2 linked regions of the Homo sapiens genome follow. The protein of the gene in region 2 interacts with the protein of the main gene of each other region in a pairwise test. Each region holds a gene or a part of one and is shown on either strand. Other genes may lie near its edges.

Region 1 (5,528 bases), on a different chromosome or scaffold from region 2:
GGAGAATCACTTGAACTCGGGAGGTAGAGGTTGCAGTGAGCCGAGATGGCACCACTGCACTCCAGCCTGGGCAACAGAGTGAGACTCCGTCTTAAAAAAAAAAAAAAGAAGTAAACATGGCAGATTAGCATCCAAGATGGAGTTGCATTAGCCTCCACAGTCCCTGTGCAGTTGTTTGAATTGCAAAGTGAACCTGCCACTTTTTTCATAGATCACTATTTTTACTTGAAAGAACAAGGTATCTACCACTATGACCTTAACAGCTTCCCAAAACTTAAAGGCTTTTCTGATGGATCAGTTTTTTTGTTTGTTTGTTTGTGAGATGGAGTCTCTCTCACTATCACTCAGGCTGGAGTGCAGTGGCGTGATCTCAGCTCACTGCAACCTCCGCCTCCCAGGTTCAAGGGATTCTCCTGCCTCAGCCTCCTGAGTAGCTGGGATTACAGGCATGTGCCACCACGCCCAGCTAATTTTTGTATTTTTAGTGGAGACAGGTTTTTGCCATATTGGCCAGGCTGGTCTTAAACTTGTGACCTCAGGTGATCCACTTGCCTTGGCCTCCCAAAGTGCTGGGATTACAGGCGTGAGCCACCACGCCCAGCCAGAATGTGAGTTTTTGATATTGCACAATGAAATGTGCCAACATTCTACAAACTCAGTGAACTGATATTTTCCAAATGAGCAGTGCATGTTACAAACCATGCATAGGTAAAAGATCCAACTATAAATAGATAAACCTGTGGGTTTTAAAGTTCATTGGTATGGTTTCAAATCCCACATTGCATTTAACCTTTAAGAAACTACCATTTGTTGAGTATTGATGTGGCATCAGAGAATAATATCCACAGCAATCCAAAAAGACTGTTAAAATACTCCTTCCTTTTCCAGCTACATATCTGTGTGAAGCTTAATTTTCTTTATATCCTTCTACCAAAACAGCATATCACAATAGACAGGATACAGATGGAGATATGAGAATCCAATTGTATTCTGTTAAGCTACACATGAAAGAAATATGTAAAGCTGTTGAGCAGTGCTACTCTTCTGAGAATTTTTACTTGTTTTTGAAAATTTAATTTTTCATAACTATATTAACTTGGATTTATTATTTTTAGTGAATTAATAAATATATTTTTAAAATTTTCTCAGTTTTAATTTCTTTTTTTTTTCTTTTTGAAAATATTTTCTTTCTAAATAATAGAGATGAGGTTTCACTATGTTGCCCAGGCTGGTCTCCAACTCCTGAGCTCAAGTGGTCCTCTCACCTCAGCCTCTCAAAGTGCTAGCATTACAGGTGTGAGCCACTGCGCATAGCCCTCAGCTTTCATTTTTAATAAGTTAAAAACAAAATTTGTTAGACTCTTCAGTAATTTTTGAGAGTATAAAGGGTCCTGAAACCAACAGGTTTGAGAGCCACTTCCACATCACACCTGTTGTCAATGGTAGGGACTGGTTCACTAGATGCCTAATGGATGTATCTCAGCAGCAATGTGAAAAGAAAGGCCTTCGAGTGATACTGAGTAAGGTGGAAGGTGTTAGCCACCAATGCTCTTCTTTCCCGGGTGTCTCTTATGCTCTGGAGGTTTCCTATCTCTGCCTTCTCATCAAAAGATATCTGGCCCGGGCGCGGTGGCTCACACCTGTAATCCCAGCACCTTGGGAGGCGGAGGCGGGCGGATCACTTGAGGTCAGGAGTTCAAGACCAGCCTGGCTAAATGGCGAAACCCCATCTCTACTAAAAATACAAAATTCAGCCGAGCATGGTGGCACATGCCTGTAGTCCCAGCCACTCGGGAGGCTGAGGCAGGAGAATTGCTTGAACCCAGGAGGCAGAGATTGCAGTGAGCCGAGGTCACACCACTGCACTCCAGCCTGGGTGACAAAGTGAGACTCCATCTCAAAAAACAAAAAAAAAGACACCTGTGCTGAGTCCTGACTCAGTCCCAAGTCCTTAGTGGGCAGACTACCTCATGTCATACATTAATAAATATAAGGTAGGCTGGGCACGGTGGCTGATGCCTGTAATCCCAACACTTTGGAAGCTGAGGCAGAAGGATCACTTAAACCGAGGAGTTCAAGACCAGCTGGGGCAACATGGCAAACCCCATCTCTGGAAATTAGCCGAGCATAGTGGTGCACATCTGTGGTCCCAGCTACTCGGGAGGCTGAGGTGGGAGGATCATTTGAGCTGGGGAGGTCAACGCTGCAGTGAGCCATGATTGCAACACTGCACTCCAGCCTGGGTGACAGAGCAAGACCCTGTCTCAAAAAATAATAATAATAAAATACATATAAGGTATAACATTTAATTTGACCGGTACTTATTGAGCACATTTTAGACATGCTGGGCATTGTGCTGGAGATAAGGATACAATGATTAATTAGATCTGGACCCTTCCCCCTAAGAGATTACAGTCTAGTAAGGGATCTGGCTGGAAAATGTCTCTAAGAATGAGATAAGGATATAACAAGTAATATTTATACATTTAAAGAAGATTTGTAATACCTTTATATAAAAGAGTGAGTCCAGTGTGGATTTTTTTCATTAGTGAAGGAGAAAGAGTGGGTCAAATGCCCCTCTTTGGAGTCCCTAAAACCACACCAGCTATGGGGATTCACTAATGCCCATCTTCTCTTCTTTCAGGCCAATGAACTTCCGGCAGAACTAACCAAAAATGAACGTATATTGCGTCTCCTGAGAAGTAAAGAAGGTCCCAGAAAGAGCTAACTTAGCTCCATATTTGACAGAAAGATAGAAAGCTTAACCACATTGTCCAAAAAGAAATTGCATTTCAAGCAGTGTTGGAAATTCTTTTATGAAAAAAAAAGATGCCCAGAATGCCCATCCTGTGGGTCCCTGACAAAGAAGAGCTACGCTCTGTGCACGAAGTCAAGAACCAAACAGCTCAGGGACCCTCTTGCCCCTTCACCATGGACTTCTCATGGTGTCCTGTAACTCATCTCCCGGGGGGCCTGGCATGTTCACAGATTCCACAGAAACTCATTTTCAACAATGCTAACTTGGACCTGTCAGTTAAACTCTAAGGTGGACAGGGTTCTCAGTACTAAGCAAGGAGACAGAATGCTTTGTTCCTTTAAAAGACTGAAAAGCTGACCTTCAATGGATTGAGGCACTTTTGCTTTTGTGTTAAATGTAGATGTGCTAAAATATATAGATCTATCATATTTTACCTACATATGTATGTCATTCCAGTATAAAACATTCTCCTCTACCCAAGAACCATAGCCATGATTGTTATAAATCAATGAAGTGTAAACATACATTATTAAAAAACCACTTCTGACATTCCATTATGTGCTATTCAAAGATGGACTATTGAACTATAGAAAAGACAGACTGTGCATTTGTTCGTTGATCCTCATCTTATTCCTGACATGTAAAAATCAATTTTACGTAGAGTCAACATTGTAGGTAGGTTAAAATACCAGTGGCAAATTTGGAAATTCAGAAACTTATAAACCACGAGAAATATATAGGCTTGTCTCTTTGGTCTTTTATTTTGGCTCTATTGTTGGGAATCTATTTCCTATTCTATAAGTAAGTATACCTAACATGCTGTGGAATCTTGAGTTTCCAACACCGTGCTGCTTGATAGAATGACTTTGAGGTCCTTGGATAAAATGTGATATATGCAAGTACAGTATGTTGCTATTACTATTGCAGGAATATAAATAATAAAAGACTGTTATTAGCACTTAGTAAGTCTTCATCTATGCATGTTTTTGAGTTGACTGATTCCAAGAATGAAATATGAGGTTTATTGAATTATTCCTTTGAAAGGGATCAAAACTTATATTCAATGCACTTTATAATTAATGGTGTCTAAATGCCTCAGTCAGTGCCTAACTGCACATACAAAAATAAAACCTTCTTTCTGTAATCTACCAAAATAAACGCAATGGTATTTCTGCTATTTAAACACATCTTTAGCTTATTTCTTCATGTTCTGCTCTGGTTTTCAGTCAGTGTCTATGTAAAGACACTTTTAGAGGAAAATGTTGTAATCCCAAAAGAATTTTTGTTTAACCAACTTTCAGAGTTACTAAAAGGATTATCTTTAATTCAGTAAATAATAGAATATAATCTTCAAAATTAGAAGATATTCTCTTAAAATTTATAACAATTAATGCAACAAAAATCAGCATATTTTGATAAATGTCTCAAGCAAATGAGCAACTCACAGGCCCCACAGGTGCCTACAGCCTGACCAGCTATACAAAAAGCCTGCAACCTGATTCTAGGATAAAATATTAGAAAGCTCTCTGTTGCTAAAACATCCAGATATAAACATTTTGGTGGCTAAAATCAATGCCATTTCCTCATTGACATTCTTTTATTCAGCAAATTTGTACAAATATACATTTTCTCCTGTGCGAATTTCAAAAAGCTATATTCATTTTGAAGAGGAAAATAATATGGCATTAAATGCTTTGTATTTTCCCCTTAGTTAGCCCTTATGGCAAAAATAGTTGCTAATCACTGATACAAAGCAAAACGTTATGGGTACTGATAACAAAGTTCCAAAAGCCAAAATGGGATGAATCACAAACTTACTGTTTTTCACTAAAACATGTAATTGGCCTATTACATCAATAGTTTTAAGTGGGTAATGTTCTTGAACAATATTAGAGCCATAAAATTGAAGCCAGTAGCTTGAACAATATGGAGGCCTTCTTACTGTAGGGAAGAGGTGTCTAGCTTAGAAGGATCACATTTGATCTAGATGAGATTACCCATAGCAGGGAAAATGAATCATCACCTACCAAAGACTGTACGGAAAGGTGTGTTATTTTCAAAATTGCATTTTAGTTTGCACACATGTAAATGATTATTCTATGTTAATCTAATTGACAATTCAGTTAGCTCCGCATCCTAAGACTTAAAACTAGCAATTCCTATGCAAATCATCTGCTTAACTGAACTACAAACGTTTTTCATTAATTCATTCTTTGATGACATATTCCATGTTATATAATAATTCAAAATAAAGTTAATATACTACCCCATTTGCCTTTGCTGCTTTTTTCTTTTTGTTTTTAATCAAGAGTTATTGCTATGTGATTTTTAGTAGCATGGAATTTTAGGGTGAATAATTCAACTCTGTAAATATATTGATATTTGGGACCCTAAATAGATATTTAAACTTTATTTTAGTAATGGACCTATGATTTCATTATCTCTGCTGTAGAGAATGAAATGATTCCAAAAAGTTTTCATTCAGAAAAGAATTCTTGGGACAGTTATTTAAGATGCTGAAAATAGAAAATTTTCTGATTTGTATTATTTATGATGCTCCTGGCCCTTTAGTCCTTTGCAATAACTTTCTCTTGTGAAGTAGCTGGTGGTTTTGCAGAACTGTTGGTGTAGGAGACAATAATTTGCAGCAGTAACATCAGGAATATGGAGATTTACAGGAACATCCTGGCTTCCATCTGCTCCATCCACCCTCTGCCGCCACAAGAAAGCTACGTCTCTTCATAAATCCCACACTGAGACACCTACTCAG
Region 2 (7,042 bases):
TGATCTCGGCTCACTGCAAGCTCCGCCTCCCAGGTTCACGCCATTCTCTTGCCTCAGCCTCCCAAGTAGCTGGGACTACAGGCGCCCACCACCACGCCCGGCTAATTTTTTGTATTTTTAGTAGAGACAGGGTTTCACCGTGTTAGCCAGGATGGTCTCGATCTCCTGACCTCATGGTCCGCCCTCCTTGGCCTCCCAAAGTGCTGGGATTACAGGCGTGAGCCACCGCGCCCGGCGAAAAAATCCTTATAGAGGCTGGGCCCGGTGGCTCACGCCTGTAATCCCAGCACTTTGGGAGGCTGAAGCGGGCAGATCACGAGGTCAGGAGTTTGAGACCAGCCTGGCCAATGTGGTGAAACCCCGTCTCTACTAAAAATACAAAAATAATTAGGCCAGGCGTGGTGGTGCATGCCTGTAATCCCAGCTGCTCGGAAGGCTGAGGCAGGAGAATGGCTTGAACCAGGGGGGCAGAGGTTGCAGTGAGCCGAGATCTTGCCATTGCACTCCAGCCTGGGTGACAGAAGAAGACTCCATCTCAAAAAAAAAAAAAAAAATCCTTACAGAGCTAAAGCACTGCACTCATAAATCAAGACCAGAATATTCTTTTTTTAAAGGAATGTAACTGGGCGCAGTGGCTCACGCGTGTAATCCTAGCACTTTGGGAGGCCGAGGCGGGCGGATCATTTGAGGTCAGGAGTGTGAGACCAGCCTGACCAACATAGTGAAATCCTGTCTTTACTAAAAATACAAAAATTAGTTGGGTGTGGTGGCAGATGCCTATAATCCCAGCTACTCAGGAGGCTGAGGCAGGGGAATCTCTTGAACCCGGGAGGCGGAGGTTGCAGTAAGCCGAGATCGTACCACTGCACTCCAGCCTGAGTGTGACAGAGTGAGACTCCGTCTAAAAAAAAAAAAAAAATCCCAACTTCTCAGGAAGCCGAAGCGGGAGGATAACTTGAGACCCAATCTGGGCAACGTAGCAAAACTCCATCTCTAAACAATTTTTAAAGAATTAGCCAGGCTTGTGGCACATGCCTGTAGCCCCAGCCACTCAGGAAGCTAAGGCAGGAAGATTGCTTGAGCCCAGGAGTTCAAGGTTGCAGTGAGCTATGATCGCACCACTGCACTCTAGTCTGGGTGACAGAGCGAGACCCCATCTCTAAAAATAAAAAAAGAAAGATAAAAATATAAATTTGGTTCTATTAAAATAAAGAGCTGCTGTTTATGAAAAGAAACCATTCAGACAATTAAAAGGCAAAGCACAGAGGGGGAAAATATATTCACAATGTATTTATCTGGCAAAGTGCTCATATCCAGAATATATAAAGAACTCCTACAAATCAATAAGAAAAAGACAAACGACTCAATATGACAATTGTCAAAATGTTTGAACAGAAACCTCACAAAGCAGGATATCCAGATGGCTAATAGCCTTATGAAAAGGGACTCAACTTTATTAGTCATCAGGGAAATGTAAATTAAAGCCACATGGAAAGCAGATCAGTGGTGGTCGGGGTGTGGGAGGAGGAATGACTGCAAATGGGCATCGTGCAATCAGTGCTTGTCTGGGGCAGTGGAAATGTTCTAAAACTGGATTGTGGTGATGGTTGCACAACCATACACATTTGTTAAAAATAAGCTGAGCCGGGCGTGGTGGCTCATGCCTGTAATCCCAGCACTTTGGGAGGCCAAGGCAGGTGGATCACCTGAGGTCAGGAGTTCGAGACCAGCTTGGCCAACATGGTGAAATCCCATCTCTACTCAAAATACAAGAAGAAATTAGCTGGGCATGGTGGCGGTGGGCATCTGTAATCCCAGCTATGTGGGAGGCTGAGGCAGGAGAATCGCGTGAACCCAGGAGGCAGAGGTTGCAGTGGGCCGAGATCACGCCATTGCACTCCAGCCTGGGCAACAAGAATGAAACTCCCTCTCAAAAAAAAAAAAACCCTATAAAAGAACACTCAAAAAACAAGAGCTCTTGGAACTTAAAAATATAGTTACAGAAATTAAAAATTCAATAGATATTTTAGAAGATAAGTTGAAGAGGTCTCCGGAGAGTAGGACACAGAAAGAAAAAGAACCGAAAAATAAGAAAGAAAAGTGTAGGCCAGGCATGGTGGCTCACGCCTGTAATCCCAGCATATTGGGAGGTTGAGGCAGGTGGATCGCCTGAGGGCAGGAGTTTGAGACCAGCCTGACCAACATGGTGAAACCCCATCTCTACTAAAAATACAAAAAATTAGCCAGGCGTGGTGGTGGGCGCCTGTAATCCCAGCTACTAGGGAGGCTGAGGCAGGAGAATCGCTTGAATCCGGGAGGCGGAGGTTGCAGTGAGCCAAGATCACACCATTGCACTCTAGCCTGGGCAACAAGAGCGAGACTCCATCTCAACAACAAAAATAGATAAATAAATACAGTTAGCTGGGCATGGTGGCGCGTGCCTGCAGTCCCAGCTACTTGGGAGGCTGAAGCAGGAGATCGCTTGAATCCGCGAGGTGGAGGTTGCAGTGAGCTGAGATTGTGCCATTGTACTCCAGCCTGGGCAACAAGAGCAAAACTCATCTCAAAAAAAAAAAAAAAAAAGGCAATTATGAACTTCAAAACCATTTGAGCAAAAAGGGAAAAAATAATCATAGTTACTCTGTGGCTTAACTAGGAACACTATTTATATGTGTTACTATTTACAGCCATATCACATTGTTTTAACCAAAGACTACAGACACTACTCACTTAGAAAGAGGCAAGGAAATGTGTGTATTGTGTGGGCAGGGAAGAGAATGTAAGACAGTGAAACCTTCTTACAAAGTCAATAGATAATGTGTGAAATGGCAAAACAAAGAAGTGGAAATATGTCATAGAGAAGAAAACACTAGAATAAAAAGGCACAGCTGGCCCGACGCCGTGGCTCACGCCTGTAATCCCAGCACTTTGGGAGGCCAAAGTGGGCAAATCACCTGAGGTCAGGAGTTCGAGACCAGTCTGACCAACATGGAGAAACCCCGTCCATCTCTACTAAAAATACAAAATTAGCTGGGCATGGTGGCTCAACGCCTGTAATCCCAGCTACTCGGGAGGCTGAGGCAGGAGAACTGCTTGAACCCAGGAGGCGGAGGTTGTGATGACCTGAGATCACGTCATTGCACTCCAGCCTGGGCAACAAGAGCAAGACTCCATCTCAAAAAAAAAAAAAAAAAAATTAGGCCAGGCGCAGTGGCTCGCTCCTATAACCCCAGCACTTTGGGAGGCTGAGGCGGGTGGATCACCTGAGGTCAGGAGTTCGAGACCAGCCTGACCAATATGGTGAAACTCCATCTCTACTAAAAAAATACACTCCTATTACCCCAGCAATTTGGGAGGCTGAGGCGGGTGGATCACCTGAGGTCAGGAGTTCGAGACCAGCCTGACCAATATGGTGAAACTCCATCTCTACTAAAAAAATACACTCCTATAACCCCAGCACTTTGGGAGGCTGAGGCAGGTGGATCACCTGAGGTCAGGAGTTCGAGACCAGCCTGACCAATATGGTGAAACTCCATCTCTACTAAAAAAATACAAAAATTAGCCAGGCCCACACCTGTAATCCCAGGAGAATTGCTTGAACCCAGGAGGAAGAGGTTGCAGTGAGCCGAGATTGCACCACTGCACTCTAGCTTGGGCAACAGAGCAAGACTCCATGTCAAAAAAAAAAAAAAAATTAGCCAGGTATAGTACACGCCTATCGTCCCAGCTACTTGGGGAGCTGAGGCTTAAGGATCACATGACCCTGGGAGGTCCAGGCTGCAGTTAGCCGGGATAACACTACTGCCCTCCAGTCTGGACAACAGAGCAAGACTGTGTCTCAAAAAATAAAAATAAATAAATATATAAATAAATAAAGCTTAGGAGAGAGACATCTGAGCTGGAGATGATCAGCTGGGAGAGAGTGTGGAGATGGTATTGAAATCCACAAGACTGGAGATGACTGAGAGAAGGAGAGGAGAGAGCAGAGGCCCAGAGCAGAGCCTGGGGCAGAGCCTGGGGCTCACCAACACCGAGAGGCCATGGAGAGGAGGAGGGAACATCACAGAGCCTGGCAGAGTGGCTTGGGGAGAGGCCACCCCCCAAGCAAGTGTACAGGAGGCTTCAGGAGGAAGATATTCTGGAGGAGTGGTCGGGGTGGTGTCTATGCTGCAAGTAAGTGGTCAAGTAAGAAGCGGGTGGGACATGGCCAGGGAACAGATAGCCTGGAGACGTGGCCACCTCAGCAGGTGCACTTCTCACGTGTGGATGGTGTCAAAATATATAGAATAGCCATGGCCAAGGAGTGAGAGGGAGTCGAACAGCACCCAGAGAAAGCTTGGAAGCAAGAAGTGGGATTCTGCGGAGCAAGCGTTCAGACAACTACGATGTTTTGCAGAGAAAGGGGGCAGAGAGGTGGGGCCTACAGGTAGAAAGAGCAACCTGTGGACTTCTGGGAAGTTTTTGAGATGTGCGCGAAGCACATTGCATGGAGCATTTTGCCTGGAGCATGTTGGTTGCCAATGGAGGAAGGGAGGAAGAGTGAACAGGGCACAGAGGGGCCACCCTGCAAAGCTTCCTTCCTCACCCACCCCCAGGTCCTGCAGTCCCTAATGGTGCCCCCTCCAGGAAGCCTTCCCAGAGCTCCCAGGCTTGGGCCTCTCCCACCTGAGCCCCAGACTTCTCAGGGGCACCCACACACACACTGTCTATGAGGATCTGTGGGTCTTAGCTTCCTCCCTGACAGCTCCCTGGGAAACAGGCACTGAGACTTACTGGTCTTCATCCGCTTCAGCATCTGCCCGGGGCCCAGGACCTGGCCTGATGCTGAGGTGAGTAGATGAGTTTCAGTGGGTGTTTGTGGGGTCAGTAAACAAAGGTGTGGATGGACAAACGGGCAGACGGACAGGCCACTACAAGTCACTAACATCCCAGAGCCCATACCCCAGGCCCTAGGTCTCCACATCTCATGGACCTGAGGCCCGCTTTCTCCCTGCCCCGACCCACCTTGGGATCCAAATCGAAGAAGCTGTAGTACTTGAAGCGCAGCCAGAGTGCGTCCCCGGCCTTGATGCCCTGCTGCATGAGACACCGCGACGAGTCCAGCCACCTGGGCCGCGGCAGAAGCAGCAGTCAGGGCTGCGCCAGGTACGGCCGTGGGGTGGGGAGGGGGGCTGGGCTGGGGGGACAAGCACACACAGAGAAAAGGCCTGGAAACGAAGTGTGGATCTGGGGTGGGCACAGACACGGGACAGGGGGTGGATCCTGGGTGGGGGAGCCCTGACACAGGGGGCGTGGCTCCTGGGTGCACCTGCTGTGGAGCTGGGTCTTGTCTGACAGGGAGCTGGGCCGTGGCAGACGCTGGAGCAGGAGGGGGTCGGGTGGCGGCTGGGGCCGGCTCAGCATGTGGTAGCAGGCCTCAGTCTGGGCGCTGTCCGAGAAGTGAGCTGGCATCCCCCGGAACAGTGCAGGTGCCACGCCTGGAGTGCAGGTTGGGAGTCAACCAGGCCTGTCCCCCAGGGCTGGGACTCACGGGCCGGCCCCTGCCCCCAACCCCCCAGGCCCACCCCCACTTGCACTCACCCCCAGCCAAGACAACCTTGCTCAAGTCATAGAGCTCTTCCTCTGGCTCCTTCTCTTTCTTCTTCTTCTCCTTCTTCTCAGGAGCCCGGAGCAGGGACAGCTCCTCGGGGTGCCGGATGCCTGAGGGGAGCTAGGGTCTCAGCGGGGACTAGGTCCTGCTGCAGCCTCCCCACCTCACCCATGGGTGCTTGGGGCGGGTCACAGCCCTGCAGGCAGGGTGGCAACCCAGACAGCAAGGACAGCGTCAACAGAGCTGGGCCTGGAAACGGGGGAACCTGCCTCTTTGCATCACCCTCGTGGGCCAGGGGAATCAGCCGGGCAACTTACTGAGGAGGCGGCAGATGGCAGCCACAGCCTGGAAGAGGGGCTGGGAGAAGCTGGCACGGAGGCGCAGTGCGCGGCGGTTGGGCAACCGAAGGATGACGGGCCGGTGCTGGGGCCCAAAGAAGAGGCGTGCGTCGGCCAGGATCCCGTACTTGTCCAGTGTCCAGTGGGTCTGCAGCAGCCACTGCCTCTTCTGTTCCCACCAAATAGCATGGTCTGACCAGTCCTGCTTGCGATCTGTGGGGCACGGGGGCACATCTGGGTCCAACCTTCCTCCCTGGTGCCCCCAACACCCAGCACAACCCCAGGATTCAGAAGCCTGGGGCGACCACTCCCCTGCCCTGCCTAAGCCAAGAGTGGGGCAGCCTGGGCGGGCCTGGGGTCTACCCCATGGTAACAGCAGCAGGGCTCTCTGCAGGCAGCCCCTGATTTGGCCTTCTAGGCTTGGCTTCTATATCGCTTCCCAGGGGAGCTCTCCAACCCAGCATCTGAGTGCCCCAATCTTAGCGCCCCATCTCTTGCATTCCAGCCCACTGGGCTCCCTCCACATGACGCCCCCTCTGTCCTCCCATAATCCACGGTTTAACAGCCTCTGTCTTGCATTCTGGGGAGCTCCTGGAGGCAGAGACTACGTCTGTCTCACCGTTGTATGTCCTCAGGGCCTGGACCTGTGCCTGGCCTGGAGCAGTGAGCACTCAATATTTTTAGCTATTAGCTGTGTGACCTTGGACAAGCCACTTAACCTCACTGGGCCTCAGTTTCCCTGTAAGATACAATAACGATCTTACAAACTGGGACACGGAACAAGGCCTCCCATGTGGTAGCTGCAGGGTTTGCAGCAAACTTGTGCACGCACATGACGATCCATGAGTGAGCATTGAATTAGAGATGTGCGTCTGTCCCTTGTCAGCCAGCTGGGAACTGGAGTTACAGTAATGGAAGGCACAGGTCTCCCCGCCTCCTCCCTCCAGGAGCATGAACAGGTGGGAGAGAGCATAGGAAAAAGGCTGCCGGAAAGCTGCTCTGGGCACACAGCCCTTGAGAGTTTGCAAAGCCCTGTTTCCTGAGTTCCTCCCAGGTCCTCCCGGTGAGTTTTCTGATTCCCACTGCATCCCACCCACCTCAGCCAGCCCCCAAC

Evidence for each region. The genes of interacting proteins can lie anywhere in the genome.
Region 1: the proteins of FERMT3 (region 2) and ANKRD29 interact in binary tests that used the Homo sapiens proteins (3 or more experiments, as listed by UniProt).

Annotation. Positions count from the first base shown.
Region 1 is NC_000018.10:23,598,426-23,603,953, reverse strand, and holds the end of ANKRD29 (ankyrin repeat domain-containing protein 29), read left to right. Parts: intron 1-2,644; coding exon 2,645-2,728; 3' UTR 2,729-5,028; downstream 5,029-5,528.
Region 2 is NC_000011.10:64,209,710-64,216,751, reverse strand, and holds part of FERMT3 (fermitin family homolog 3 short isoform), read right to left. Parts: intron 6,142-7,042; coding exon 5,908-6,141; intron 5,701-5,907; coding exon 5,581-5,700; intron 5,478-5,580; coding exon 5,309-5,477; intron 5,108-5,308; coding exon 5,005-5,107; intron 1-5,004. UniProt on the Homo sapiens protein: Plays a central role in cell adhesion in hematopoietic cells. Acts by activating the integrin beta-1-3 (ITGB1, ITGB2 and ITGB3). Required for integrin-mediated platelet adhesion and leukocyte adhesion to endothelial cells.